Linked DNA regions of Homo sapiens: regions 1, 2, 3, 4, 5 and 7 are each linked to region 6. Evidence: fine-mapped expression QTL. A gene starts in region 6. Each other region holds a variant in brackets. All regions are shown on one strand. Distances are from middle to middle.

What was found. PIP is the estimated chance that this variant, and not a neighbour inherited with it, causes the effect.
Region 1: its variant is fine-mapped to the expression of PJA2 in whole blood (INTERVAL, PIP above 0.99).
Region 2: its variant is fine-mapped to the expression of PJA2 in whole blood (INTERVAL, PIP above 0.99).
Region 3: its variant is fine-mapped to the expression of PJA2 in whole blood (INTERVAL, PIP above 0.99).
Region 4: its variant is fine-mapped to the expression of PJA2 in whole blood (TOPMed, PIP above 0.99).
Region 5: its variant is fine-mapped to the expression of PJA2 in whole blood (INTERVAL, PIP above 0.99).
Region 7: its variant is fine-mapped to the expression of PJA2 in whole blood (INTERVAL, PIP 0.99).

What each region holds. Positions count from the first base shown.
Region 1 is chr5:109,436,389-109,440,388 of GRCh38, reverse strand. No RefSeq gene overlaps it. Among named protein-coding and RNA genes, the nearest start is that of PJA2, 28 kb to the right of the region's middle. The variant T/A (reference allele first, on the strand shown) is at 2,124.
Region 2 is chr5:109,587,448-109,591,447 of GRCh38, reverse strand. It overlaps the pseudogene KRT18P42. Among named protein-coding and RNA genes, the nearest start is that of MAN2A1, 100 kb to the left of the region's middle. The variant G/A (reference allele first, on the strand shown) is at 2,286.
Region 3 is chr5:109,905,963-109,909,962 of GRCh38, reverse strand. LOC105379119 (a long non-coding RNA gene) reads right to left here and starts at 2,460. Exons shown (of 3, transcript XR_948667.3): 1 at 2,342-2,460. The variant T/C (reference allele first, on the strand shown) is at 1,672.
Region 4 is chr5:109,371,889-109,375,888 of GRCh38, reverse strand. The region is part of intron 4 of PJA2 (praja ring finger ubiquitin ligase 2); the gene reads left to right. Among named protein-coding and RNA genes, the nearest start is that of PJA2, 36 kb to the left of the region's middle. The variant A/G (reference allele first, on the strand shown) is at 2,059.
Region 5 is chr5:109,344,433-109,348,432 of GRCh38, reverse strand. It overlaps PJA2 (praja ring finger ubiquitin ligase 2), which reads left to right. Exons shown (of 10, transcript NM_014819.5): 8 at 3,614-3,728. Among named protein-coding and RNA genes, the nearest start is that of PJA2, 64 kb to the left of the region's middle. The variant T/C (reference allele first, on the strand shown) is at 2,364.
Region 6 is chr5:109,407,805-109,411,804 of GRCh38, reverse strand. PJA2 (praja ring finger ubiquitin ligase 2) reads left to right here and starts at 1,831. Exons shown (of 10, transcript NM_014819.5): 1 at 1,831-1,963. RefSeq lists enhancers at 1,197-1,376, 2,487-2,606, 2,647-2,746 and a silencer at 1,887-1,966.
Region 7 is chr5:109,539,061-109,543,060 of GRCh38, reverse strand. All of the region lies in intron 5 of LOC105379117 (a long non-coding RNA gene), which reads right to left. Among named protein-coding and RNA genes, the nearest start is that of PJA2, 130 kb to the right of the region's middle. The variant G/A (reference allele first, on the strand shown) is at 1,812.

The DNA of each region.
Region 1 (4,000 bases), 29 kb before region 6:
TCCATCTCAGCAGATTCTTGAGTAAAGGGAATCTTGGGTATCATATTTTGAGTACCTTGATCCCTGTAGCAAGACTATATCCATAAAGATATGGACCTATCAGCCTTGGTAGTAACAAACATTTGATTTATCTAATGCCTGTTGTTAAGATTTCTATGTCTACCACATAACCTTCTAATCACATGTACCTTAAAGGCGAGAATAAGTTCTTCACTCTGATTATGAGTCTTCTTATTCCCATGATATTTTTCATTTTAAGTTGATAAATTCACGTTCCAGTGTTTCCTGTGGTCTCCCGGGTAGTTCAGGTTTAATCAGTGACACAGGACTCCTAGAAATTGACAATTGTTAGCAGACTCTGCCTAAGCCCACTTATAAATGCTTGTCTGTTTGGGGATTTATATACTGAGATCAGAAACTAAGCCACCATGGCTACAGTATTAGAAACCAGAAAATATCTGTAAACAAAGTGAGAATCTACAGTTTACTAAGAATAAAGTAATCAGGAAATGGCTGATATCACAAGCTGGATTTCACCATCCACCACTATACAGAGGACCCAATCATCTAAAACCTGCAAATGAACATCTTCTCAGAGCTGGGGACAGAGGTAAATGAGGCCCAAATGGCCTCTGATGTAAGATATTCTTCCCCACACACTTTCAATTTTATGATGAACAAGTAGTGTGTGTCAGAGAAAGGGACTCTCTTAATGGTTTTTCTTGATGATTACCCTAGAAATTAATAGCAGCCCAAACATGTCACTGCGGTGGCTGATATGATAGATATTGATCATGCAAGTAGGAAAGAGGGAGTAGAGTCAGGGGAACTTTCAATCTAATTACATAGCATATATCTTGGGCCTGACCCAGTAAAGAACTTGTATGTCCTAATTCACATATAAATTCTTCTACTAACATAGCTGTTTCCACTATGCCTACCACACTGACTATTAACCTCTTTTCAATCTTCCTAACCTGCAAGGGGACCATGTTTCAATTTCTGGATAAACTATGGACTTTAGTTAATAATGATGTGTCAATATTGGCTCATTAACTCTAAGCTATGTACCATACTAATGTAATAGATGCATGAATAGAAATTTTCTCAAGTGTAGGTTTTACCACAGCCAGATAACAAGTTACTAGCTAACAATAACTGAGTGATTAGTATGTGTCAAATGGTTATGACTGATAGTTTTATTTAATTTTTTTGAGACAGAGTCTCACTCTGTCGCCCAGGCTGGAGCACATGGCTCACTGCAGCCTCAGACTCCTGGCCCCAAGTGATCCTCCCACCTCAGACTCCCAGAGTGGTAGGATTACAGGCATGAGCCACTCTGCCCGGCACAACTGATAGTTTTAACTAGAACCAGAGGGATCAAGTGGGGTGAGAGAGCACCTTTTCAACAAAAGAGGGTGCTGTTTCCAAAATAGAAAAGGTTTTGCAAAGACAAAATAAAGGTTTTAATTTGCATTTCTCTAATTATGAGTGAAACTGAAGATCTTTTCAGATATTTAAGGGCAATTTTTATATCTTCTTTGTGAGTTGTCTATTTCTGTCTTTTTCCCATTTTTCTAATGATTAGTTATCCTCTTCCCCCTGTTTTTTATTTTATTTAATTTTCAAAATATAATTAGAAATAGATGTTTTAGAACAATTTTAGGTTTATGGAAACCTTGAGAAGATACTACAGAGAGTTACCATATACCCTACACCCAGTTTTCCCTATTATTAACATTTTACATTAGTATGGCACATAGTTTACAATTAAGGAGCCAGTATTGATACATTATTATTAATATATTAATGTTATAAAGTCCATAGTTTATCTGAATTTCCTTAGTTTTTACCTAATTATTTTTCTGTTCTAGGATCACATCTGGGATACAATATAGCATTTTAGAGGTGTATCTACTTAAGCCCCTCTTGGCTGTGTAGTTTCTCAGACTTTGCTTCTTTTTGATGATCTTGACAGTTTGGAGGAACTGGTCAGGTATTTTGTAGGATGCTGCACGATTAGAATTTGTCTGTTGTTTTTCTTATTCTAAGACTGGGGTTATTGGTTGTGTGGGGCAAGACCTCACAGGTAGAGAGCCACTCTCATCACATCATAGGGTACA[T/A]TCTACCAACAAGTGATTTATGAATATCGATGTTAACCTCAATAACCTGGCTTAGGTAGTGTTTGTCAGTAGAGAACTACTGTAAAATTACTTCTTCCCATTTCTTTTATACTGTACTCTTTGAAATGAAGTCTCTATGCACAGCCCACGCTTTCAGGGTGGGGAATTATGTTCCATCTCCTTGAGGGTGAAGTAGCTAAATAAATTATTTGAAATTCTTCTGTACAGAAGATTTGCTCCTTCTCATCCATTTATTACTTTATTCAATCATTTATTTGTATCAGTATAGACTCATGAATATGTATTTTGTCCTAGGCTATAATCCAAATCCAATACCCTTTTATTTATTTTGTTGCTCAAACTGATTCAGCTTCAGCCAGTAAGAACTCTCTCAAGTTGGCTCCTATGCACCTTTGACACACCCTCATCAATATGGGTTTCAGGTTTTGCTTGGGGGGTGGGGCGTGTGTGTGTGTGCAGCATTTCCGTACTTTCTGGTATTATAAGATGCTCCCGGCTCATCTTGTATAGTACTTGCCCAAGTGGTAGAGTCAGCCGTTTCTCCAAGGAGCCCTGGTTTCTTTCGTTGGAGAATGGTATTAGAAACCACGATCTGGGTATTAAGTGTGCTTTTTGATACTGGTGTGTTTTCCCTTCTATTTTACAGAAAGAGTGATTTTTATATTTGAGAGATAAGCCCTTTATCTCTCCTATATGTTTTATCTAGTGTGTCAGTTATCTTTTAAGGTTATTTGTGATGTTTCTAATATGTAAACATTTTATATTCACCTAATAAAATATATCAATCTTTCCTGTTACTGCATTTTGACTCACAGAAAGCTTTTGTAAATACTGATGCTAAAAAGTGATTCACACATATTTTCTTCCAGTATTTGTATAGTTTCATTTCTTATGTATAAATCTATATGAGTTTTTAAATCAATTTTTCATTTTCTTCAAAAATAAAAAGCCAATTAGAATTATGATTGGGATGAAACTGAAGATATAGATCACCTGGGGAAGGTTGTCATCTTAACAATATTGGGTCTTACACTCTGTAAACATAATTAGAGTTCTCCATTTATTTAGGTCTTTTTAAGTTAGCTTTGCAATGTTCTATGGTTTTCAATGTACAAGGCTTGCATGGCTTTCATTAACTTTATTCCATAATATTTTAAATTCTATTGTAAATGGAGTTTTAAAATTTTTTGTTCATTGCTTATTGTTTGCTAGTATATAGAAATCCAATTTACAAATATTGATTTTGTATTCTGCAAATCTTAAATTCTTGTAATAATTCTAGTACCTTGTTTGTAAACTCCTAAGGGTTTTTTACATGTACAATCAAGTCATCTGCAAATGAGGACAGTTTAACTTTTTCCATTTCAATTTCTACAGTTTTTAACCCTGTTTTTCTTTTTGTATTATATCAGCTAGGCTGTTCAGTGCAATGTTAAAGTAGTAAGAATGGACATAACTTGGTTTGTTCCTAATTGTAGATACAAAGAATTGGGCTGTTTTCCACTGATAATGATGTTAACTGTAGGGTTTTTTATAAGTGACCTTAGTTAATGTGAGGAAAGCCTCTTCTATTCTCAATTTGTTGCAAGTTTTTAATCATAAAATAGTCTTGAATTTTAAAAAATGTTTTGGTGTCTGTTGAGATGATTTTGTGGCTTTTTCCTTTTATTTTAATAACACAGTGAATTACATTGATTGATTTTCAGATGTTTAACCAACCGTGCATTTTCCAAATAAACCTACTTGGTCATAATGCATTGTTCTTTTTATATGTTGTTAGATTTGATTTGATAATACTTTGCTGAGGATGTTTATTTCTGTTTACAAGATATTTTTCTCCATAGTTCTATTCTTTG
Region 2 (4,000 bases), 180 kb before region 6:
CCACACCACCCCTCTCATTCGGTGTCACCACCCCCTGGCACTGTATTCCAGCATTAGAGAGGTGAGGAACTAACACCGTAGTGATCTTGCTTTTGCTGTGTGATAGGAATCTACCTGAAACCACTTGGAAAAAACATTTCATGAGAGCTTGTCACCTTACCTGCTACTAGCTGAATCTCAAAGTGTGACCAGCCAGCCCAGCAGTCTACATACTGGCCTCTGTGAGCCTTGTACCCACTGTGCTGCTTCGTCTCTTGACGCCACCAAGGCAGCCATACTCTCCCGTCTTTATACTTGTCCAGTCACAGCTCCCTACAAACCTCAGGAACATAAGTCAAACTTTTTAAGTAATTTTCTTTAAGCTCTTCTTCCTTAAGGTGGGGGTAAACACACTCTACCACCCTAACATTGCCTAGGATGGGACAGCCACAGTACTCCACTAACTTCCTCCAAAAACCACTACTCTCCCCCAACCTAACAACTTCAACTCACACCTGTCTATAGCCTCAAATGGGTGCTTGCCTAAACCTGCAAAATTGGTGGAGCTTCTTTGCATGGTGGATTAGCACTTTATTTTAAGAATATGAGCATCACTTGATATCTATAACTCGTTGTGTTATTCTCAGCTTTTGAAGTCTCAGCTTAAATGAAGACAGAGTTTTAAGAAAACTTCTTGGCTAGTTTATCATCAGCCTTATATAATATAATAAAAAGTTTCCTTCTAGTCATAGAACAGTCTTCCAGAAATAAATTCTGGTTTGAAACCATGTTTACTCATTTTGTGACATTATTAGTGATGCTTTATCAGCCTTTACAGATTGCAAGTCTAGGTTAATGTCCTAACTGGCCACCACTTAATCTGGCTCTGCTGCCAACCATGAAAAGGTTATATTCTAGGAGCCATGTTTTGTTTTAGGCCACCAAGCAGGCAGATTTAATTTAGAGAATTTTTAATGTCTGATGTTCTCTTCTCAGTTGACTGTGAAGGCAAGAGTTAACTTCTGAGCACATTAATCTCAATCACAAAGTTGTTGAATTTATAACCCTCTTGCTTGCCTTGATTAAATAACTGCAAAAGCTGGAAATTGCATTGAGCTTTTTAAAAGCTTAAAGCCCTAGGAGCTTTCATGCACCTTATTTGTTTCTAGATAAATGTGGGTGCAGCATAGCTGAAGTGTGGCTGGCTCTGTGAAAAAATATGTGCAACAGCTGCTTTGATATCAACACCTCTAGTGCCCCCTTTTGTTGCCTTCTCTCCCATCAGGAGCACCTAATGCCCACATATTTTCACTAAGACCTGCCCTCTCAGGGCTGAGCCCCGGCTCTCAAACACATTCTCCCCACTGCCTGTGAAACTCACGTATTGTGCCTTTCAATTGTTCTGATAAGTACCTGTTCTGATCCTACAAATAGGGTGCTAGCTTTCCCTGCTTCGTTTTCTCTCTTCTCCCCGCAAACTAAGAAATTTTTGTTCTCCACATAAATTCTTTTGGGTTTTCACAATGAAAATACAGGAAAGAGGAGAAGGAATGGAACATATCATTAATTTACTCTAAAGTGGTAATATCCCCTAATTACAATGTATTATTCATTACCAGTATATTCAAAGAAATTGGACCTAATGGTATCAACAAGTGGTACACTTGTTACAATTGATGAACTTACATTGACACATCATTATCACCCAAAATCCATAGTTCACATTACAGTTCACTCTTGGTGTTGCACATTCTAAGGACAGTCTTTGGACAAATGAACAATGACATATATCTAACATCATAGTATACTTTTTTGACCTCTGAACTTTTTATTGGCCTCCTGCTCCCCAAAGGGTACCCTGCTTCTGCTGGCTTAATGTCTCAGAACTTTGGTGTCGTTGGTCTCAGACACCACTTTGCTATCCACTATCCAGCGGGTAGTGGTATTTGGATGGTTTCCATGGATTTGCTGCTGTCCAGGGCATCACCAAGATTGAAGTCCTCACCATTTTCCAGCAGGCGGCGGTAGGTAGTGATCTCAGCCTCCAGCTTGACCTTGACATTCAGCAGGGCCTGGTACTCCTGGCCCTGGCACTGTCCCTCTGCCTGGGTCTGTGCCAGCTCTAACTCCAGGTGCAGCAAAATCCCATTGACCTTCTCCATCTGCAGGGTGTAGCGGGCCTTCACCTCCCTCAGGCTGTTCTCCAAGCTGGCCTTCAGATTTCTTATGGAGTCCAGGTCAATCTCCAAGGACTGGACTGTACATCTCAGCTCCATGAGCGTCATCTCAGTAGCTCCAACCTTGGC[G/A]GACTGCATGGTGACCACTGTGGTGTTCTCCTCAATCTGCTGAGACCGATACTTGTCCAGGTCTTCTCAGTTCTTCCGAGCCAGGTCGTCATATTGGGGCCAGATGTCTGCCACGATCTTGGCGAGGTCCTGAGATTTGGGAGCATCTACCTCCATGGTCAACCCAGAGCTGGCAGTCTGGGCTTGTAGGCCTTTTACTTCTTCTTCGTGGTTCTTCTTCATGAAGAGCAGCTCCTCCTTCAGAGCCTCGATCTCTGTTTCCAGCTGCAGCCGAGTGACATTGGTGTCATCAATGACCTTGTGGAGCCCACGGATGTCGCTTTCCGCAGACTGGCGCATGGCCAGCTGTGTCTCATACTTGACTCTAAAGTCAGCAGCAGCAAGGCAGTCATTGTTGACCTGCAGAATGATGCGGGCATTGTCCACAGTATTTGCAAAGATCTGAGCCCTCAGGTCCTCGATGGTCTTGAAGTAATGGCTCCAGTCTCTGACCTAGGGTCCCTTCTTCTCCAGGTGCTCCCAGATTTTGCTCTCCAGCTTCCAGTTCTCGGTCTCCAGGCTCCTCACTCGTCCAGGTAGGTCGTTCAGGCTTTGCAGGGTCTCCTCGTTCTAGATGCCTTCCATTCCTGCCAGGCTCCCAGGCCCCATGCCGCCATGTCCTGGAAGCCGGCAGAGCGGGACACGCAGATCTGGGAACCGGAGCCCCCGGCTCCTGCATAGATGCTGGCTGCACTGCTGACTGGCAGGGAACCGTAGCTGGGCTCCAGGACAGAGCCCTGGGACTGGTAATTGGTGGAGAAGGTGGAGCGAGTGGTGAAGCTCATGCTGTCCGGGGAGGAGAGCGAGAGGACAAGACTCGGGCTTTGCCGACAACATAATCATATATTTTTATCACTGTAAAAATTCTCTGTGACCTGCCTATTCATTCTCCCACCCCCAACCCCAACTTTCGGCAACAAGTGATCTTTTTACTGGTTCCATAATTGTGCCTTTTCCAGAATGTCATAGAGTTGGAATCGTATAGTAATGTAGCCTTTTCAGATTGACGTCTTTCACTTAATAATATGCATTTAAGTTTTCTTTATGTGTTTTTTGCGGCATGGTAGCTTATTTCTTTCTAGTGCCAAATAATATTCCACTGTGTGGATTTACCACAGTTTATGTATTCATTTGCCTCTGAAGGAGGTCTTGATTGCGTCCAGGTTTTGACAATTATGAATAAAGTTGCTAGAAACATCTATGTGCAGGTTTTTGTGTGGACATAAGTTTTCAACTCCTTGTAGACACCAAGGAGCGTGATTGTTGGTTCATATGGTAAATGTTTAATTTTGTAAGAAACTACCAAATATGTTGATAATGGAGGAGGCTATGCATGTGAGAGGCAGGGAGTATGTGGGAAATCTCTGTATATTCTGCTCGGTTTTGCTAGGAAACTAAAACAACTGCTCTACAAACATAAAGTCTGTAAAATAAATAAATAAATGAACATATATATGTATATAAACATATATATATATATATAAACACACACACACACACTATAGGAGAGGCTAATTTTACCCCTACACTCTTAGAGTTTTTTTGGCTAGGCCTGAGAATTAAATTGACATAGACAAATTAGTAGGAGAAAAGCATACAAATTTATTTAATGTTTTACATGATACTTAAGCAAATGAAGGCCCAAAGAAGTGGCAAATTCTAAGTGCTTTCATATT
Region 3 (4,000 bases), 500 kb before region 6:
GCAAAATCCATTACAAGACTTTCACCCTAGTCCAAATGAGAGATGATGGTGACTTAATAGAATGATAGAATAGGATATTAATGACTTAATAGAATGATCAAGTGATAGGATAGTAGTCATGAACTTGGTGGAGAATAGTTGGATATATAATTTGAAGAATGGACAGGATTTGCTGATGGGTAGGATTTAGGATATGAAGGAAGAAGATTCAAAGTTAACTCCTGGAACTTTGGCCTGACTAACTGAATAGATGTACTGAACATGCTAAGTTTGAGAAACTTATTAGATAGACACTGGCAATGCCACAGAGGCACCTTGATGGGAGTTTGTAATTCAAAGGACAAGTTGAGGCTGGAGATAATATTTACAGCCATGAAACTGGATGGAGTCACCTAACAATACAGAGAAGACAAAAATCTGATAAATAAGCCCCCCCAAACTCCAAAACAGTGATCAGAAAGAAGATAAGGAACCCATAGAGAAGCCTGAAAAGTAGTTGAGGAGACAGAATGAGTATGAGAAAATTGTCACAGCCTGGAGGTCAAGTGAAGAGTGTTTCAAGAAGTAAAAAATTGTGTCAAATGATGCAGAGAGTTGACGAAGAATGAGTGCTGTAAGGTGATCACTAGATTCAGCAATGTGGAAGTCACTGGTGACTTTACCAGAACAGGTTCAAATGAGTGATGAGAACAAAGCCTGATGAAATGAGTTAAAAACAGACTGGAAGATGAGCAAGCAGAAGGACAGTATAGACAACTCCATTGAGTGTTTTGTCATGGAGGGGAGCAGTGCAAGTGGGCAGTAGGTGGAGAAAGACATGGGACTGGGAATTAAAGTTCTTTTGTGTTTGTTCTTTTAACATGAGAAATATTAAGAGTTTTTGTATACCCATGGGAATGATCCAGTTGATGGGGAATATTAATGATACAGAACACAAGATGAACTTCTGGAGTTAAGTAAGTAAAAGGAGATGAGCTGCAGTTACTAAGTGAATAGAGAAATTGGCTTTTGATAGGACAAATTGTTCTAATCTAAATGCTTTTCTTTCAGAAGAAAATACATTAATTGCTCCTTTTTTTCCTCCCTTAATAAATACAACCTTGTGGGTTAACTCTAAAAGAGAGTTACTACCTTTTCACACACCAGAAAGCTAAAATAACACAGTCAAGTGATTTGTCCAAAGTCACATACAGCCAGGCCTCATTCCCTGAGTTTCTGATGCCTTATCAATGGTTCTTTCTGCCTTTCTACACAACATGTGTGTGAGAGTCAGGCAATGGAAATGTCACTCTCAAGGGCCGATTCAAAGTCACAGGTTTAGACCCTCGTGGAAATTAAGTAAGGCAAACTTTTGACAAATTCATTCAAAAAAACTGTTTTCAACTTCAATCTGCACCTGTCTTTTCCCCAATCAGCCTAGATCAGAGATTCAGAGCTGACAGATGGTCTTTATGACTTATCAAGGCAGCACTCCTATCCCTTCTATTCTGCCAGTCCTTCCAGACGGATTTTTTTCTCAAATGGCAGTCTTATCAAGGATATAGTTTATTCTGCTAGCAAATAGCCAAGGGACAGGCTAGAAACAGATAGGCAGCAGAGGGAAGATGGTCTGGAATTATCAATTTGCTGGGCCTCATGCTCAAACGCATAATTAACAGTTGATAATTGTTC[T/C]GGGTTGGGCAGAGTCCTATAATGGTTAGATCAAGGCATAGTTTACTGTACTTAAATCTGGGCATTTACAATTATTCTCCCCTTAATATAAATTAGGAAGTTGGAAGCTCTCTCTCTCAAACAGATTTCTCTCTCTCTCTTTTTTTTCTTTTTTAACAACTCTACTACCACCTAACTTGCCCTTTAAAAATATGCTCAGATTCTTCCAAGGATAAGAGTGAGAGACAAGAGGATATGAATCCAAAAGGTGGTTTCTGCTGTTTTGCCACATCTGCTCAAAATTCCACAGCTGGCACTGCCTCCTAGAGATTACCAGAATGACTAATGATTCACACAGCTCCCAGTCTTAAATGTGCTCGGGAAAATGTTCAGGGATTTGACCACAGCTTTTCAACATCAAGAATGAGAGGTGTGAGAGCTCCCAGACATCAGCTAGTTCATCTCTTGCCAGATCTGGATTTTTCCCTTCTGGATAAGATTCTAGCAGATGCTTTAGCTAGTCTTGTTTTAAATATCTTAAAGGATGGCACTCCCTCCGCTTTCCAAGGGTAAGGCTTTTTCACAGTCCAGTGGATCTTCTCACCAGTCTGTGTTTTCCAGAAACTTGCCTGAAATTTATCTTTTGTTAATTTCTTAACATAACTCATGTTTATTCACTTTGGCAACTCACCTGCAAGCAGCATCTCTCCCTCATTGGCAATTAAGCAACTAAGTCTACAAGCGAGAGATCATCAGCCAATGTCTTCCCTCTATTTCTTTTTCTTGCTGGATAAATCCAGCATGCCAAGAAGTTCTGTGCACTGAACACCCAGTGGTTTTCTGTTCATTTTACTCTGTCTCTTCAATTATTACCTCATCACTCTCAGCCACCGCGTGGACTGTTCCTATCTACCAAGCTTGGCAGGGGACTCAAGTATCAACACAATGCAGTCATTCTCACTGATTCCTGGCCCTGACCCTACAAGGATTCACAACAAATTCCATCCTGTCACAGATTGCAGCATGGGGATGGTTAACAGAAGATACACACTGCATCAAGGTCAATGTAGAAGACTCCAACCCATCACCAAGTGGCTCCATGTTTTCTGCTGTGATGGTATCTTGTCCACGCTCATGCCAGCCTCTCTCTACGCATCAAACCCACTGCTACTTTTCTTCTAGCCCATTCTTCTCACTCTAGATGCTACTTTTGGGCCCCTTAGCTCTTCACTTCCAAATTTTCTCTCAACCTTCTTCTCTTTGTACCTCACAGCTCTCATTTGAAACTTGCTGCATATTTTCCCAGCTGAATATGTTAATCACATTCATCTTTTCCTCCTCTGCTGTAGACAACCCTGTGGGCTAAATAAGTCATATTATTTCTTTCACTTTTTCACATACTGGAAAATTAAGACAGCATAGTCAAGTGACTTGTCTCAAGTCACAGCTAATATCAGGTTCGGAGCCAGCACTCATACCCTGAGCCCTATCCATAGTTCCTCCTGATTTTCTACACAACACATGCATCAGTGACACACAATGGACACAGGCTTTGCTATTGACTCCCCTATTATTCCAGGAAGGTGCTACATACCTAAATATACTTATTTTACATGCTGTAAAAAATCAACTTTCTAACTTTCCTTTTTACAAGAATTGTGTCTTGGATGTTATTTTAAATGATTAAAAGCAAAAGACAAGTATAGTCAACAGTAATTTATTGTACTTTTAAAAATAACTAAAAGAGTATAATTGGTATGTTTGTAACCCAAAGCAATGATAAATGCTTGAGGTGATGGATACTCCATTTACCCTGAGGTGATTATTACATATTGTATGCCTATATCAAAATAACTCAAGTGCCTCATAAATAATACATCTACTATGTACCCATAAAATTTAAAAATACTTATTTTTAAAAAAACAAAGGAACAGTTTCTTGCAAAGTTAAATCACTTTTTTCCCTTTGCATTTAGACCAAATATATTTTGCTATGCAGAAATGCCTAAGTAAATTATGTGATAACTGAAAAGTAGTTTAATAGAATTTACATTTGATTTTTTAAAAATCCATTAAGCTAAGGATTTATAAAGACATTTTTTCTTCTGCTCAATACTTGCCTGAACAAAACACCCACCCAGCCAAAATCAAACAAAAAGCTTCTTTTGTCTTCATGAACTGATGTCACTTGAGTTGTACTACTTTAGAATCCACAGGACTAGAGTGAAAAAACAAGCAACTGGAATGTGAACAACATCAGGGAGATGTGACTCACATACCTGCTTACTGGCTATTAGACCTCTTTAAATTTCCCACACAATATGAACTACGGTCTGCTTCAATTTCCACA
Region 4 (4,000 bases), 36 kb after region 6:
CTGCAAAGGATTATAGTTGCCAGGGTGCCTTTTTAATATGGTGCCAGCTAAAGGTTGGAATTTAATAGCTGTACACTCCTATTTAGTTTCATTTTGCCCTTGTTCATCTCCCTGATGTTTCATTGTCATCCTCCCTAGTTCTTGTATTTGTAGATTGGAGAGATGGTGATGCTAGTCTTCTCAGGTTTTGGATGGAAAGTATAAGAGCTGCTGCTTAATTTGGGCCTGTGAACTTTGAGTTTTTTTGTAAAGCTTAAAAAGTTGATATACTTGAAAAGTTTTTTTTTGTCATGCTTATAATAGCCAAAGTAGAACTCATCAAGAATATAACTAAAGTTCATTGTGGCATTTTTATTTTTTTATTTTTTATTTATTTATTTCGAGACAGAGTTTCTCTCTGTTGCCCAGGCTGGAGTGCAGTGGCGTGATCTCGGCTCGCTGCAACCTCTGCCTCCTAGGTTCAAGTGATTCTTCTGCCTCAGCCTTCTGAATAACTGGGACCACAGGCATGCCATCATGCCCAGCTAATTTTTGTATTTTTAGTAGAGATGGGGTTTCACCATGTTGGTCATGCTGGTCTTGAACCTGTGACCTCAAGTGATCCACCCGCCTCAGCCTCCCAGAGTGTCAAGATTACAGGCGTGAGCCACTGCACCCGGCCAGCATTTTTAGATATAGGAATTTTGGCTACTTTTTAAAAATATGAATTATATATTCTTTTTAAGTAGAAAAGTATTTTAATGAATTCATGATTGCCTTCTTCCCTGAAAAATTCTAAATGATCATTTAATCACATCTGAAATGTTACACTCTGTGGGATAAACATTGCAGCCAGTAGCATTGCTCTGAGCTGTTTGACAGGTACTGAGCACCACCTTATTAAATTAGGATTCCAAGGGGAATTTTAATAGGCAGCATATAATTACCAGACTTAGAATTAGACCAAAGAGCTAAGGTTAATACCCTGCTCTTTTGAAATATACCCTGAGAAGTTTAGTAACTGTTTGAGGACAAGATCTTGAGTTTAAAAAAAACCTTTCAGCAATACTAGCATATCTTAACCTTGGGCCTAACTGCTCTGAAGAGAGGCATGCCATCTACTGTCTGTTCCTTACTTATAGCATTTGAGGTTTCTTGCAGAATTTTTGTGGCCTTAGGACTTAACTTTGCTTAAAATTTAAAAACCTTACTTAAGGTAAAATGTTGGGACAACTTACTTTGTTGATGATGTTGGGAAATAAAATGATTGTTAGCCATTTAGTTGACTTCAATATGATATATTAAAGGATTTGTTGAAATCTTAAGTGCCAGACTTTGTTCCAGGTGCCCTGTTAATACAAATCATAATGGTCCCTGTTCCCACAAGGTTCACTAGCTTTATGAAGAAGACAAAATATACGTATTTATTATTGTGAGGCTGAATTAAGCGCCTTTCCTGTTCCGTGTAGGTTACCTGAGAGCCACAAAGAAAGAGTTTGTCTGAGAACTTGGTACTACCCCCAACAAATAAAACATCTATATGCAGCCAAGGCACAGATCTTAAAGCATATGTGCTGACATTTTAGCAAACCTTTTTATCTTGTTTTCAAGTTCATAGAAGTTTGGAAGGAGCACATTAGGTATAAATGTGTTTGTTCTGCAGATATGCTAGGGAGTTCATGGGATTACAATAACCTGATACTAAGGAAAAAGACCAGAAAGTGACAAAAAGCAGGCACAATGCAAAAATCATAGCCATCTTAATGAAATTAAGCAGACTTATATATTTGGACATAATCCATTCATATCACTGTATTACATTACAGTTCAGTGTTAATAGTGGTAAAAAGTTCCAGAATGTTTAGATTATGTCAGATAACAAAATATTTAAAATTTCACTTTTTCCTAGGCTCCTGTAGTTGAGTTTCTTGTGGCTGTGATAAATGCCAGGAAGAACAAAGTAACAAGTACCTTGGGGAATTATGGAATGAGAGATTACTTTTGGTTGGTTTTATGTTTCCATAGCTTATTTCTGCCTAGGATTTGTACATAAATTTTGTCTATAATTTCATTCTGTAT[A/G]TCAAGTTTTTTTAGTTCACAATTGAATGTGTAGAGTGTAACATTTGAGTAAATTATAGTTGTCTGCTTTTTAAATACAACTCTTAGGTGCTAAAAGGGATCAGTACCAGTGAAGGATCATATGAAGATCAAAGTAGTACTTAATTTAGTTTTTACTTTGAGAACTTTTAAATGTGTCATTCACCCGCTTTTAAAATCTAGAACAAATGGATCTTCACTGTTCCATGATCATTTTTGTGTCCTATTTGTTCTGTTGCTTACTCCTTAAAAAGTGATTTTTAAATCTTTTCCCTTTTTTCCTTCCATGTACTCCTGTCACTCCTAATGGTTAGCTTCGTTTCTTATTTTCCTGTAGAAGTTAAAAATATGTAAATGTGAATTTTCTTATTTTCCTCTTCTCCATATTAGGGGATAGTAGTATTTATTTGTATTTTTAATTTCCTCTTCAATGAAGAGAGGTAGCCCCTCTCATTCTGTGCCTCTAGTTATTTCTGACACTTCATCTAATTGTCCTTACTCACAGGTTGCTTCCCTCTGTCTCTCAACCTTGAGTTTTTCTCAATCTTGAAGAAAACCTTTACTTTTTCTTGCTCTGTTATTTGCCTGTTTGTGTTTTCTTTTCTACTGCTGAATTTTAAGAAAAAGTTTTCCATACCCACTGTCTCTATTCTGTCACTATCCACTCTTCTTACTGCCTTGAAATCTAATTCCTAATATTATTTCTGTATTCTTTTTTATTGAGACAGTCTCGCTTTGTCACCTAGGCTGGAGTGCAGCGGTGCAATCTCAGCTCACTGCAACCTCCACCTCCTGGGTTCAAGCAATTCTCCTGCCTCAGCCTCCTGAGTAGCTGGGACTACAGGTGTGCACCACCATGCCTGGCTAATTTTTTTTTCTTTCTTTCTTTTTTTTTTTTTTTTTTTTTGAGACGGAGTGTTGCTCTAGTTGCCAAGGCTGGAGTGCAATGGTACCATCTTGGCTCACCACAACCTCCACCTCCCAGGTTCAAGCGATTCTCCTGCCTCAGCCTCCTGAGTAGCTGGGATTACAGGCATGCGCCACCACACCCAGCTAATTTTGTATTTTTAGTAGAGACCAGTTTTCTCCATGTTGCTTAGGCTGGTCTCGAGCTCCCGACCTCAGGTGATTCACCTGCCTCAACCTCCCAAAGTGCTGGGATTACAGGCATGAGCCACTGCACCCGGCCCTATATTCTTTAATGTCAGTGGTGACCTCCTGATTTCCACATCCATTTGTCTTTTCTCAGTACCCATTTTCTTTGATTTCTCTGCACTATTATGAAAAATAATTGCAATGTTAAAGAAGCAGCTGTGTTGTAGTGAGCTGCACTGAGTAAACAAGAAGTCTAGTTCATGAAATAATTGAAAAACAAAAGAAGCGATTTTATACAGGAAGGTCTTGAAAGAAATAGAGTCTGATCTGTGTTTGGAAGTGGGGAAAAGGTGAAGTGATTATAAAGATATTCCTGATGGCAAGAATGCCCACTTTGAGGACACTGTTTGAAATAGAGCATTCTTGAGTTGGATGCAAGAAAGTACTGGGATCAGATAGCAGTAAATTATAAGTGTTATTCAAAGACATTTAACTTTTTATTCTATAGGTCACTATTTCCAAAGTGGGTAAAATATATTAAGTGGTACACAATGTTTTTAATTTAATCATTATGTATTTATGTTAATGGAAATTAAGAAAATATAGGTAGCACATCAAATTCAGGACTTAATGGCTATTGCTTATCCTAACTAAATGTATTTGAGTTTAAAAAAATGTTAAAAAAAGACTCGCTAACAGTTATTGATGGCTCATTATTTATCAGGCATTGTGAAAATGTTTTATATATATTAACTCACTTACCCTTTACATGAACCCAGTGAACTATTAAATACTGTTGTTGTATTCACCTGATATGTGAGGCTAAAAA
Region 5 (4,000 bases), 63 kb after region 6:
TAAAACTTTTGAGAAATTTGATGAGACTAAGAAGTCAACTCTAATTTTCATTTAGCAATCCACACAATTACATTTTGCGTTTGATTTTTAGGAGCAAGAGCATCTTTTAGGGCTGTCGTGGATGCTTTCTGGCTCTCATACCCTATTGTGAGGTTTAAGAGACCTGAGTTTGTAATTTTTTTCTGTAAGTGCACAAGGGCACTCTTAATAATCCATCTCACATCACGATTTTTACAGTTAGATCACTGTTGCCGTAAGATCAAGTATAGGAGCTATCTGGGCTTTCAAGACACATGCTTCAGTTGGATCTTCATCACTGTCAACCACAGTGATACCTTGATTAATTGTGATGCCACTACAGACTATGGATTAATAGCATCCCATTCTCATTGGCAAGGAGCTCAACACTGAGCTCAAGCTCAACAGGTGTAACCAAACCAACCCCCAAATCCTTTTCTTGCCAGTTCTGTGTCCCGGGACCACTCTTAATATGAATTCTGTACCAGTCTGAGTTCAGTCCCAAGAGAGAGAAATACAGTAATTTGAACAGGGAAAATTTACTGTAAATATTAACTGCAACAGAAGTTTAGAATACCAAGGGATTGGCTAGTAGGAAGTAAAGCAAACTCTAAAGAATATAGGATTAGCAGATTTAAGAAACAGCTTTAGGGCTGAGATGGAGCACTCTACTTCCCTCCTGTCTAAGGCTGAGAGCCAGACCTTATTGGGAAGGACACAGCCATGGCTTATGGAGGAGTATTTATGGTACTGTGCTGGCAGAACTTGCTGGAAATTTGCCTTCTGGAACATGGCAAAAATCTGCCCTCTGGGGCAAGAGAAACTTCACAGTGATGTGACCAAGCCCCTAGGTACTCTGCTGCAGAACCACCTAAGATGAGTACAAGGAGAAGCTGCTGGCAACCTTGTCCTGTAATTACCAGTTACTGGATAAGCAGCATGTGCTTCAAGAGCCAGGCACTGGAGAAGCCACCCACACTGGAGGAGTCTGATGCTGGAGAAGCCATCTGTGCACAGGGAAGCCTGGCACACTGCAGGGGCAAGCCCAAGGGAACCATGAAGCAAAGTCCTTTCCTTGTGTCTCTCCAGCACCTTCTGCTGACAAAACTTAAAATCATGTCAGCTAACAAAAGGAAAAATATTTAAAAGGCCCAAATCTGTTTTCAAAGGGCAGAAATGAAAGGTGTATTTGGAGCTGAGAAGCAATAATTCAATTACTGGAACAGTGTTTCTTTCTTTTTGCAGTGTTTCTCTGCATATCCAGAGTCAAATTTAGTGTTCAATAATATTAACTATGTTTATTAACTCTTTGTGAACCGTTTTGCTTTTTCCTTTTTTAGTCCTGATTTTGCTTTGGGCTTGGCCCAAGGCAAGTTGTAATCCCTATTATAAGTCATCTCAAATTCTTTTTGGGAATATCTATGGTAGGACCTTAGGCATGTATAAATATTATGTTTGCCATCCAGAAGAATAGAGTGTTAGCTAAGCTATCAGGCAGAATTCTTCTTCTATATGGGAAACCTGGCTTGTTCATTTTTTTTTATTATGGTAAAATAAACATAATATAAAATTTACTATTGCTACAGTTTTTTAAAGTGTACAGTTCAGTGTAATCAAGTGTATTCACATTGCTGTAAACAGTAACTCCCCATTTTCCCATCTTTCCAGCCCCTGGCAACCACCATTCTGTTTTCTGTCTCAATGAATTTGACTACTTTAGGTATCTCATGTAAGAATCATACAGTACTTATCTTTCTGTGACTGGCTTATTTCATTTAGCATAATGTCTTCAAGGTTCATCCATGTCGTGGCATGTGTTAGAATTTCCTTCCTTTTCAAGGCGGAGTAATATTTCACTGTATGTGTATATCACATTTTGCATATTCATCCATCCACCAATGAACAGTTGATTTGCTTCCACCTTTTGGCTCTTGTGAATAATGCTGCAGTGAACATGGGTGTACAGATACTTGTTTTAGTCCCTGTTTTCAGTTCTTTTTGGGTGTATACCCAGAACTAGAATTGCTGGATTATGTGATAATTCTGTTTTTAATTTTGAGGAATTGTTGGGCTGTTTTCTCTAGCAGCTGTAATATTCTGCACTCCAACCAGGAGGGGAGGCCCAGTTTTGATAGTTGTCAAATTTCCTTCAGGTTTTTCATCCCTAAAAAGAAGCCAAGGTCTTTCATAGCTCCATGATCTTATGATGCTGTAATTAGGATATAATACTAACAAGTAATAATTAAACGGTGTAATACCAATTCTTTGAATACAGTAGCAGTTCAGAAGGATACTCGTGCAGTCTAGGACCACTGACATAGGCCTCATGGAAGAGACAGGACTTA[T/C]GCAGTCCCAGAGGGAGTGATAGGACTTAAAGGATGGACAGAAAGCACCAGGCAGGGGAAGCAGCATGTGCACCAAGAGCAAGTAATTGTACAGGTTGCAGACAAAAAGACAAAAGTCTCAACTGCCATTCTAGTCTAATTAGAGCCAGAAAGGATGAGGATGACGCATCCCAGATGATCACATGATCTGATGTTCTTTCCATCCTTCTTAGAACAGTAATTTGACACAGATATTTGAACCTGTAAATGAAATTCACAACCCAGATAACCTAGTAATACTTGTGAGCTGGTAATGTGGGTGCGCCAAATCCATGCCAGTAGTAGATGTAGCCATTCAGGAGTGCATTATTTGCTTCCATACCTGGAGCTTCTAGTAGCCTCAGCCACATTTTATCTTTCATGAAGTGAACCTTTCCAAAATGTTTATTATTTTCTTTCATGTTATTGATCTCACATAGGAACCAATAGTTGGAAAAAGTAACCACTCCTTCAAAATATAAATACGGAGAAGTAGATGATTATTGAGACAAGGTAGTTTTTTTTTTTTTTTTTTTTTGAGACAGAGTCTCGCTCTGTCACCCAGGCTGGAGTGCATGGTGATCTCAGCTCACTGCAACCTCTGCCTCCCAGGATCAAGCGATTCTCCTGCCTCAGTCTCCCCAGTAGCTGGGATTATAGGCACACACTACCACGACCTGCTTTTTTTTTTTTTTGAGATGGAGTTTCGTTCTTGTTGCTCAGGCTGGAGTGCAATGGCTTGATCTCGGCTCATTACAACCTCTACCTCCTGGGTTCAAGCAATTCTCCTGCCTCAGCCTCCCAAGTAGCTGGGATTACAGGCATGTGCCACCACACCCTGCTAATTTTGTTTTTTTTTTTTTTTTTTTTTACTAGAGACGGGATTTCACCATGTTGGTCAGGCTGTCTTGAACTCCTGACCTCAAGTGACCCACCCCGCCTCGGCCTCCCAAAGTGCTGGGATTACAGGCATGAGCCATTGCGCCCGGCCGAGACAAGGTATATTTTTATTTCACATGTAGAAAGTTGGGCTCTGCGTGTATATTTAATGTTTTGGTTTGTTGGTGATGGTGGTAGTTCCTTCTGAAGAGGCAAAAGGAGCAAAGGACTAAAGCAAAAGAAACTAACAAAAAGAGAATAATGGTGATATAATTTTGGAGATACCCTAAAAATAGTTTTCTGTTACTGTTTTAAAGTATTTCTAACAAAGAACTGTACCTTTTGTTTTTCAGACTGCTCTGGCCCATTTAGAGTCTCTTGCAGTGGATGTTGAGGTGGCCAATCCACCAGCTAGTAAGGAAAGCATTGATGGTCTTCCAGAGACCCTTGTTCTTGAAGATCACACTGGTAAGGGCAAAGTTGATCTCAAATGTTGAAGAACACATTGTACATTTAAGTATATTATCAATATACCTAGATAATTAAATACTTGATTATTAGAAACTTTCACTAGATTTTTTTTATAGAAACCAGATGCTCACAAACTTTCACCTAGTACAAGAATATTTTTAATTTTCAAGCGATAGGCTGAGACAAATGTTCCTCTGTCAGCTTTTTTACAAAGCAGTATTTATTAGATTCCAAATTGCCAAGTATTAGACAGAAATGCCTGCCAATTA
Region 6 (4,000 bases):
GCTCTATTTTTTCTATCCTTTGATGACATCATGATAAAAATACCATTTGAGTGCTGTATCTTTAATGTGTGTCTAATGCTTGGTAGCTTGCCCTTTTAACAAAGACAGTTGTCTTTAGACTTAGAGCCTTTAGTGGACAACAGTTTCTAGCCACAATTTAAAAACATTGTTTTGCATTCATTTTTCTTACAGTTACTTTCAACTTATAATAGGTGATGCTAGTTTTCCATTTATAGTACTTTTATAAAGTCTCCTTCTTAAAGAAATTAAAGAAAATATACATTTATTTAAAGAAAAAAGGACAGTGAGTAGTATACACAGATACAGTATGAAAAAGGTTGAAATTTGGGAATCCCTGCCTTCTAGAACAGGTTAATGTATCCAGTTGGGCCAATCTGGAACACCCTAAAGGGAAACTAGGGAAATGTAATTAAAATATGAATTTTGTTTTTTTTCAAAGAGGTACTTGGATGGTTAAAGTCAGAACTCCTATAGCAACACGTGTGAAGGCAGAGTAATATCAAGCAAGGAATGGTTTTTTGGTAAGAAACGTACTACAGGAGTGGGCTGGGATTCAGATTGGATTTCACAAAATGTCTGGCAAATTCTCATAAACCTAAATTTCTACAGTAAATTTTGGGTAATTTATTTCCATCAACAGCAAAAAAAAATTAGTCTCAGTTCACTGGCAAGAGAGTTCGCTGTTGTTAAGGGGACAGCACAAGAAGTGGGGCTCTTAATTCGCGGGGGAGGGGTGGCGATGAATATATCCTGGGCATCAGGCGACGGGTCGGGGGTGGGGAATAAGAGAAGACAGAGGGACTGTAATCAGATAAGCGGACACGTTTCAAGATGAATAAAGGGAATATGTGCGGAACGAAGAAACAGTTTTGTATCACTGACATAATTAACTAAACTGTTACCCAGGTTTAAATTAAGCAAGGTGTCCGGGGACTGCAGCTGTTGTATTTATTTTGGTTGCATGTGATGGGAGCTGTTACTTCCCGGCTTGACAAACAGCCTCAAGATGCAAGCTGGGAGGCTGTGGTCAGCCCAAGGCTATACAGAGGAAAGGCAGGCCTCCTCTGAACCCCGCCCCAGCAGAATAAGAAGCGAGGGGCAAGGGTCAGCGCGGAGAGGGAGGGTGGAAAGCGCCATATAGTGCCCAGGGTCAGGGTGGGTAAACAAGCCTTTCTTCGTGTCATTTTTTTTTTTTGTCTCACCGATATCTGCATTGTAACTGAACTTTATGCCAGGAGACCTTAACCTTGTTAATCAGGTTTCCAGTCGAATCAGGATCGATTTTAATGCCTCCATTTTGGTTGTTGCTGTTGGAATTTCCGAAAAAGCCTAACTGCGCCAGTCTTTCTGTTAGTTCTCCACACCCCCTTCCCTTTCCGAGACCCCGCCCTTTTCTCTCAGCCCAAACCACAAAAGGCCGCGCAGTTTTAGCTCCTACACGGTGCTCCGCCCCCTCCCCAAACGTCGCAGTACTGCAGGGAAAGGAGGTGGGCTCGGCTGGGGCGGGGGACTGAGTCGGCTTCGTCTTTCCGCTCTTCAGCCAATTGGTGAACTCCCCCTGAGGGAGATGGGGGAGCAGGCTGTAGAGAAGGTCCAAGTATTTTTCCCTTTTTCTGCCACGTCCCAACCATTGACGTGAGCCCACTCCTCAGGTTCTGATTGGGCGTATGCATTGTCCCCCAGCAGAGACCCTGTAAGCTGACTGGTCATCTCTGCTATGGGGGAGGGGCTTGCGTACTCTCCTCCTTCGCCTCCACCGCGGCGCAAGGGGCGGGACTCACCGCCACCGCCTCTGCTTCCGCCGCCGCCACCGCCGCCGCCGCCGCCACAGCCGCCAGCCGCTTCGCGTTCGGCGGGGGAGGAGTTGGAGGCGGAGAAGAAGGCGGTGGTGGCGGGTGGAGGTTCGAGCGCTGTTCTCGCTCCGGAGCCGCTGCACATTTCGGTGAGGGTTTTTTTTTTTTTTTTTCAGTCTGGCTTGTTCCGCTGTCGGGAGTGTGGGGGTCGGGGCGAGGAAATTGCTGCGTTCAGCTCCTCAGTTTCTCTGTCTCTAGCTTCGGAAGGAGCGGGGCTTGTCCCTGGCCTGCTGCGCCGGCCATGGTGGGTGGGGTTGATGGCTGTGGGAGGCCTTCTTCGCCTCCTGGGCCCTGTCCAGCCCGGACCCGGGCCGCGCTCCTATCCGGGACGGTCGCGCCCGCCGCCCCCCGACAGATGACATTGGTTGGTATCGGGGTCTTCGCTGCCGCTCTTTACTGCTGCCTCTTCTGCTGTCCTTGGTGACTTGGCCAAGGAGCCCGCTGGCTTTCCCCTACACTCGCCACTGTACAAGAGTTTGCCCCCCAACCAACACCTCACACCCACCTTCTGCGGTTTCCCGTCACCCCGCGTAGAGCGGAACCATCTTACGCCACAGGCCTGCAGCACCCCTCCCCCGAGGAGCCTTCTGTTGCCGTCGTTTTGCTGGGCGTCTGCATTTTCCCCGATTGTCAGTGAGGCTCGGCACGCAGACACCCCGCTCGAGCCGCAGCAGTCGCTCTACTCCCGGGATCAGCACCTTTCCGCCAGGGCTGCTCTCAGTTAGCGATGTCAGGCCAGAGCTCCTCTTGCAGATGCACCTTTAATTTGGCCTCCCTCAGATGACTGGTAATCATTTTGCGCACATTCAAAATGGTGAGGTTAAAGACGCTCAGACCAAGTTGAAGCAAAGGGGAGGTGGTAAATAGTCGTTTTGCAGGGAGGAGAGTAATCTGAGAGTTCCTTCTCCGGACATTAAAAAAAAAAAAATTTACATCCGCATAGGCGCTTCTTTTGAGTCTGCTGGTTCTGTGAAGTTTAAAATTTTCATTGCAGGCTTAATGTATTCTGTTTTATCATGAAATATTTGGTCACATTTCTTTAAAATGGCAGTCACCTTTGCTGAAGGCTACGGATCATTTGAAGTGTATGTGAATAAACCTGAGGATAACAGTAATAAACGTTTAAACTGTATTTTTCAGTGTTGTAATTGTCTTTTGGGGTTCATGTCATTTTTATATGAGATGACCACTTAATTTTAAAAATTCATTGCAGACATGCAAGTTTGATGTACACTTCAACAATATAAATAACGGACTGTTAGGTAAAATTTAAATATTTCTTTTCATCCCCCAGTCCCACTCCAGTGTAAAGTTGACAGTTTAGTGTTCATTTTTCAAAATCTTGCAAATGCACTTCTAGACACATACAAGTACACGTAAAGTTTTTTTTTTTGAGGGAGGCTATACCATATACCAAACATGTTTGCATACCGCTTGCTTATTGACTTAATTACATATGTTGGACATTTTTACTTTTTACATATAGGTCTCCCTAATACTTTTTAAAAGGCTAACTGGTATCTCGTGAGTTTGAATGGGCTATAATTTATTCTATTCCCTTTTTGAAAGACATTTAATTGCAGTTTCTTTTTGCTATTACAAATGATGATTTATAATGAAAATAACTTTCTAATTTATTGATCGATGTTTAATTACAAATTTTAATTCATCCTTGATTTTAAAAAATTAAACAGTATGGAAGAATGTAAGGTAAAAATTACCGCTTCCACTTCTAGTCCTGCTTGCATCTTGATTGTCAGCCACTGTTAACAATTCAGTAAACTTCCTCTATGTGTGATTATTTCTGGAGCATGGGTTCCTAGAAGTGAAGTTGCTCAGTTAAAAGATTATGCATATTTTAAATTTTGGTAACCCTTTCTCCCTCTTTATTACTCTTGTTGAAAATATTCTTGAATGTTTCTTATGCATTTCTTCTTCTAGGTAAACTTTAGACTGAACTAAAAATCCTTAGCTATTTTGAATAAGGTTATATTGAAATTTTAGATTAATTTGGAGACAACTGATCTTTATAGTATTGAGTCTCTCTCCTCAGAAATGTGGCCTCTCCATTTTATTCACATCTTGTTTTATACTGTTAGGGAAATTTTTATAGTTTTTCTTTTTTT
Region 7 (4,000 bases), 130 kb before region 6:
TGTCCTAAATGGTATTGCCTACCTTCAAGGGTTTTTATGGTTTTAGGTCTTATGTTTAAGTCTTTAATCCATCTTGAGTTAATTTTTGTATAAGGTGTAAGGAAGGGATCCAGTTTCAGCTTTCTGCATGTGGCTAGACAGTTTTCCCAAAATCATTTATTAAATAGAGAATCTTTACCCATTGCTTGTTTTCATTAGGTTTGTCAAACATCAGATGTTTGTAGATTTGTGGCGTTATTTCTGAGGCCTCGGTTCTGTTCCATTGGTCTATATATCTGTTTTGGTACCAGTACTATTCTGTTTTGGTTACTGTAGCCATGTAGTATAGTGTGAAGTCAGTTAGCGTGATGCCTCCAGCTTTGTTCTTTTTGCTTAGGGTTGTCTTGGCGATATGGGCTCTTTTTTGATTCCATATGAATTTAAAGTGGTTTTCCTAATTCTGTGAAGAAAGTCAATGGTAGCTTGATGGGGATAGCATTGAATCTATAAATTACTTTGGACAGTATGGCCATTTTCACAATATTGATTCTTCCTATCCATAAGCACAGAATATTTTTCCACTTGTTTGTGTCCTCTCTTATTTCCTTGAACAGTGGTTTCCAGTTCCCCTTGAAGAGGTTCTTCATATTCCTTGTAGGTTTTATTCCTAGGTATTGTGTTCTCTTTGTAGCAATTGTGAATGGGAGTTCACTCATGATTTGGCTGTCTATTATTGGTATATAGGAATGCTTGTGATTTTTGCACATTGATTTTGTATTGTGAGACTTTGCTGAAGTTGCTTATCAGCTTAAGGAGATTTTGGCCTGAGACGATGGGGTTTTCCAAATATACAATCATGTCATCTGCAAACAGAGACAATTTGACTTCCTCTCTTCCTATTTGAATACCATTTATTTCTTTCTCTTGCCTGATTGCCCTGGCCAGAACTTCCAATACTATGTTGAATAGGAGTGGTGAGAGAGGGCATCCTTGTCTTGTGGCAGTTTTCAAAAGGAATGCTTCCAGCTTTTGCCCATTCAGTATGATATTGGCTGTGGGTTTGTCATAAATAGCACTTATTATTTTGAGATACATTCCATCAATACCTAGCTTATTGAGAGTTTTTAGCATAAGGAGGTGTTGAATTTTATTGAAGGACTTTTCTGCGTCTATTGAGATAATCATGTGGTCTTTGTCATTTGTTCTGTTTCTGTGATGGATTATGTTGATTGATTTGCGTATGTTGAACCAGCCTTGCATCACAGGGATGAAGCCCACTTGATCATGGTGGGTGAGCTTTTTGATGTGCTGCTGGATTCAGTTTGCCAGTATTTTATTGAGGATTTTCGCATCGATGTTCATCAGGGATATTGGCCTGAAATTTTCTTTTCTTGTTGTGTCAGGTTTTGGTATCAGGATGATGCTGGCCTCATAAAATGAGTTAGGGAGGATTCCCTCTTTTTCTATTGTTTGGAATAGTTTCAGAAGGAATGGTACCAGCTCCTCTTTGTACCTCTGGTAGAATTCGGCTATGAATCCATCTGTTCCTGGGCTTTTTTTGGTTGGTAGGCTATTAATTTCAGAACTTGTTATTGGTCTATTCAGGGATTTGACTTCTTCCTGGTTTAGTCTTGGGAGGGTGTATGTGTCCAGGAATTTACCAGTTCTAGATTTTCTAGTTTATTTGCATAGAGGTGTTTATAGTATTCTCTGATGGTAGTTTGTATTTCTGTGGGATCAGTGGTGATATCCCATTTATCATTTTTTATTGTGACTATTTCATTCTTCTCTGTTTTCTTCTTTATTAGTCTGGCTAGTGGTCTATCTACTTT[G/A]TTAATCTTTTCATAAAACCAGCTCCTGGATTCATTGATTTTTTGAAGGGTTTGTCGTGTTTCTATCTCCTTCAGTTCTGCTCTGATCTTAGTTATTTCTTGTCTTCCGCTAGCTTTTAGATTTGTTTCCTCTTGCTTCTCTAGTTCTTTTAATTGTGATGGTAGGGTGTCGATTTTAGATCTTTCCTGCTTTCTCCTGTGGGCACTTACTGCTATAAATTTCCCTCTAAACACTGCTTTAGCTGTGACACAGAGATTCTGGTATGTTTTATCTTTGTTCTCATTGGTTTCAAAGAACTTATTTATTTCTGCCTTAGTTTCATTATTTACCCAGCAGTCATTCAGGAGCAGGTTGTTCAGTTTCCATGTAGTTGTGTGGTTTTGAGTGAGTTTCTTAATCCTGAGTTCTAATTTGATTGCACTGTGGTCTGAAAGACTGTTTGTTATGATTTTCATTCTTTTGCATTTGCTGAGGAGTGTTTTACTTCCAATTATGTGGTCAATTTTAGAATAAGTGCAATCTGGTGCTGAGAAGAATGTATATTCTGTTGATTTGGGGTGGAGAGCCCTGTAGATGTCTATTAGGTCCACTTGGTCCAGAGCTGAGTTCAAGTCCTAAATATCCTTGTTAATTTTCTGTCTCATTGATCTGTCTAACATTGACAGTGGGGTGTTAAAGTCTCCCACTATTATTGTGTGGGAGTCTAAGTCTCTTTGTAGGTCTCTAAGAACTTGCTTTATGAATCTGGGTGCTCCTGTATTGGGTGCATATATATTTAGGATAGTTACCTCTTCTTGTTGCATTGATCCCTTTACCATTATGTAATACCCTTCTTTGTCTTTTTTGATCTTTGTTGGCTTAAAGTCTGTTTTATCAGAGACTAGGATTGCAACCCTGGCTTTTTTTTTTTTTTTTTTTTTTTTTTTTTTTGCTTTCCGTTTGCATGGTAAATATCCCTCCATCCCTTATCCCTTAATTTTGAGCCTATGTGTGTCTTTGCACATGAGATGGCTCTCCTGAATACAGCACACTGATGGGTCTTGACTCTTTATCCAATTTGCCAGTCTGTTTCTTTTAATTGGGACATTTAGCTCATTTACATTTAAGGTAAATATTGTTGTGTGAATCTGATCCTGTCATTATGATGCTAGCTGGTTATTTTGCCCATTAGTTGATGCAGTTTCTTCATAGTGTTGATGATCTTTACAATTTGGTATGTTTTTGCAGTGGCTGGTACCGGTTTTTCCTTTCCATATTTAGTGCTTCTTTCAGGAGCTCTTGTAAGGCAGGCCTGGTGGTGACAAAATCTCTCAGCATTTGCTTGTCTGTAAAGGATTTTATTTCTCCTTCTCTTATGAAGCTTAGTTTGGCTGGATATGAAATTCCGGGTTGACAATTCTTTTCTTTAAGAATGTTGAATATTGGCCCCCACTCTCTTCTGGCTTGTAGGGTGTCTGCAGAGAGATCTGCTGTTAGTCTAATGAGCTTCCCTTTGTGGGTAACCAGATCTTTCTCTTTGGCTGCCCTTAACATTTTTTCCTTCATTTCAACCTTGGTGAATCTGATGATTATGTGTTTTGGGGTTGCTATTCTCAAGACGTATCTTTGCAATGTTCTCCATATTTCCTGAATTTGCATGTTGGTCTGTCTTTCTAGGTTGGGGAAGTTCTCCTGGATAATATCCTGAAGAGTGTTTCCAACTTGGTTTCATTCTTCCCGTCACTTTCAGGTACACCAATCAAATGTAGGTTTGGTCTTTTCACATATTCCCATACTTCTTGGAGGCTTTGTTCATTCCTTTTCATTCTTTTTTTCTCTAATCGTGTCTTCATGCTTTATTTCATTAAGTGGATCTTCAATCTCTGATATATTTTCTTCCACTTGATTGATTCAGCTATTGATACTTGTGTATGATTCACAAAGTTCTCATGTGTTTTTCAGCTCCATCAGGTCATTTATATTCTTCTCTAAACTGGTTATTCTAGTTAGATATTCCTCTAACCTTTTTTCCAGGTTCTTAGCTTCCTTGCATTGGGTTAGAACATGCTCCTTTAGCTCAGAGGAGTTTATTATTACCCACCTCCTGAAGTCTACTTCTTTCAATTCATCGAACTCATTCTCCATCCAGTTTTGTTCCCTTGCTGGCGAGGAGTTGTGGACCTTTGGAGGAGAAGAGGCGTTCTGGTTT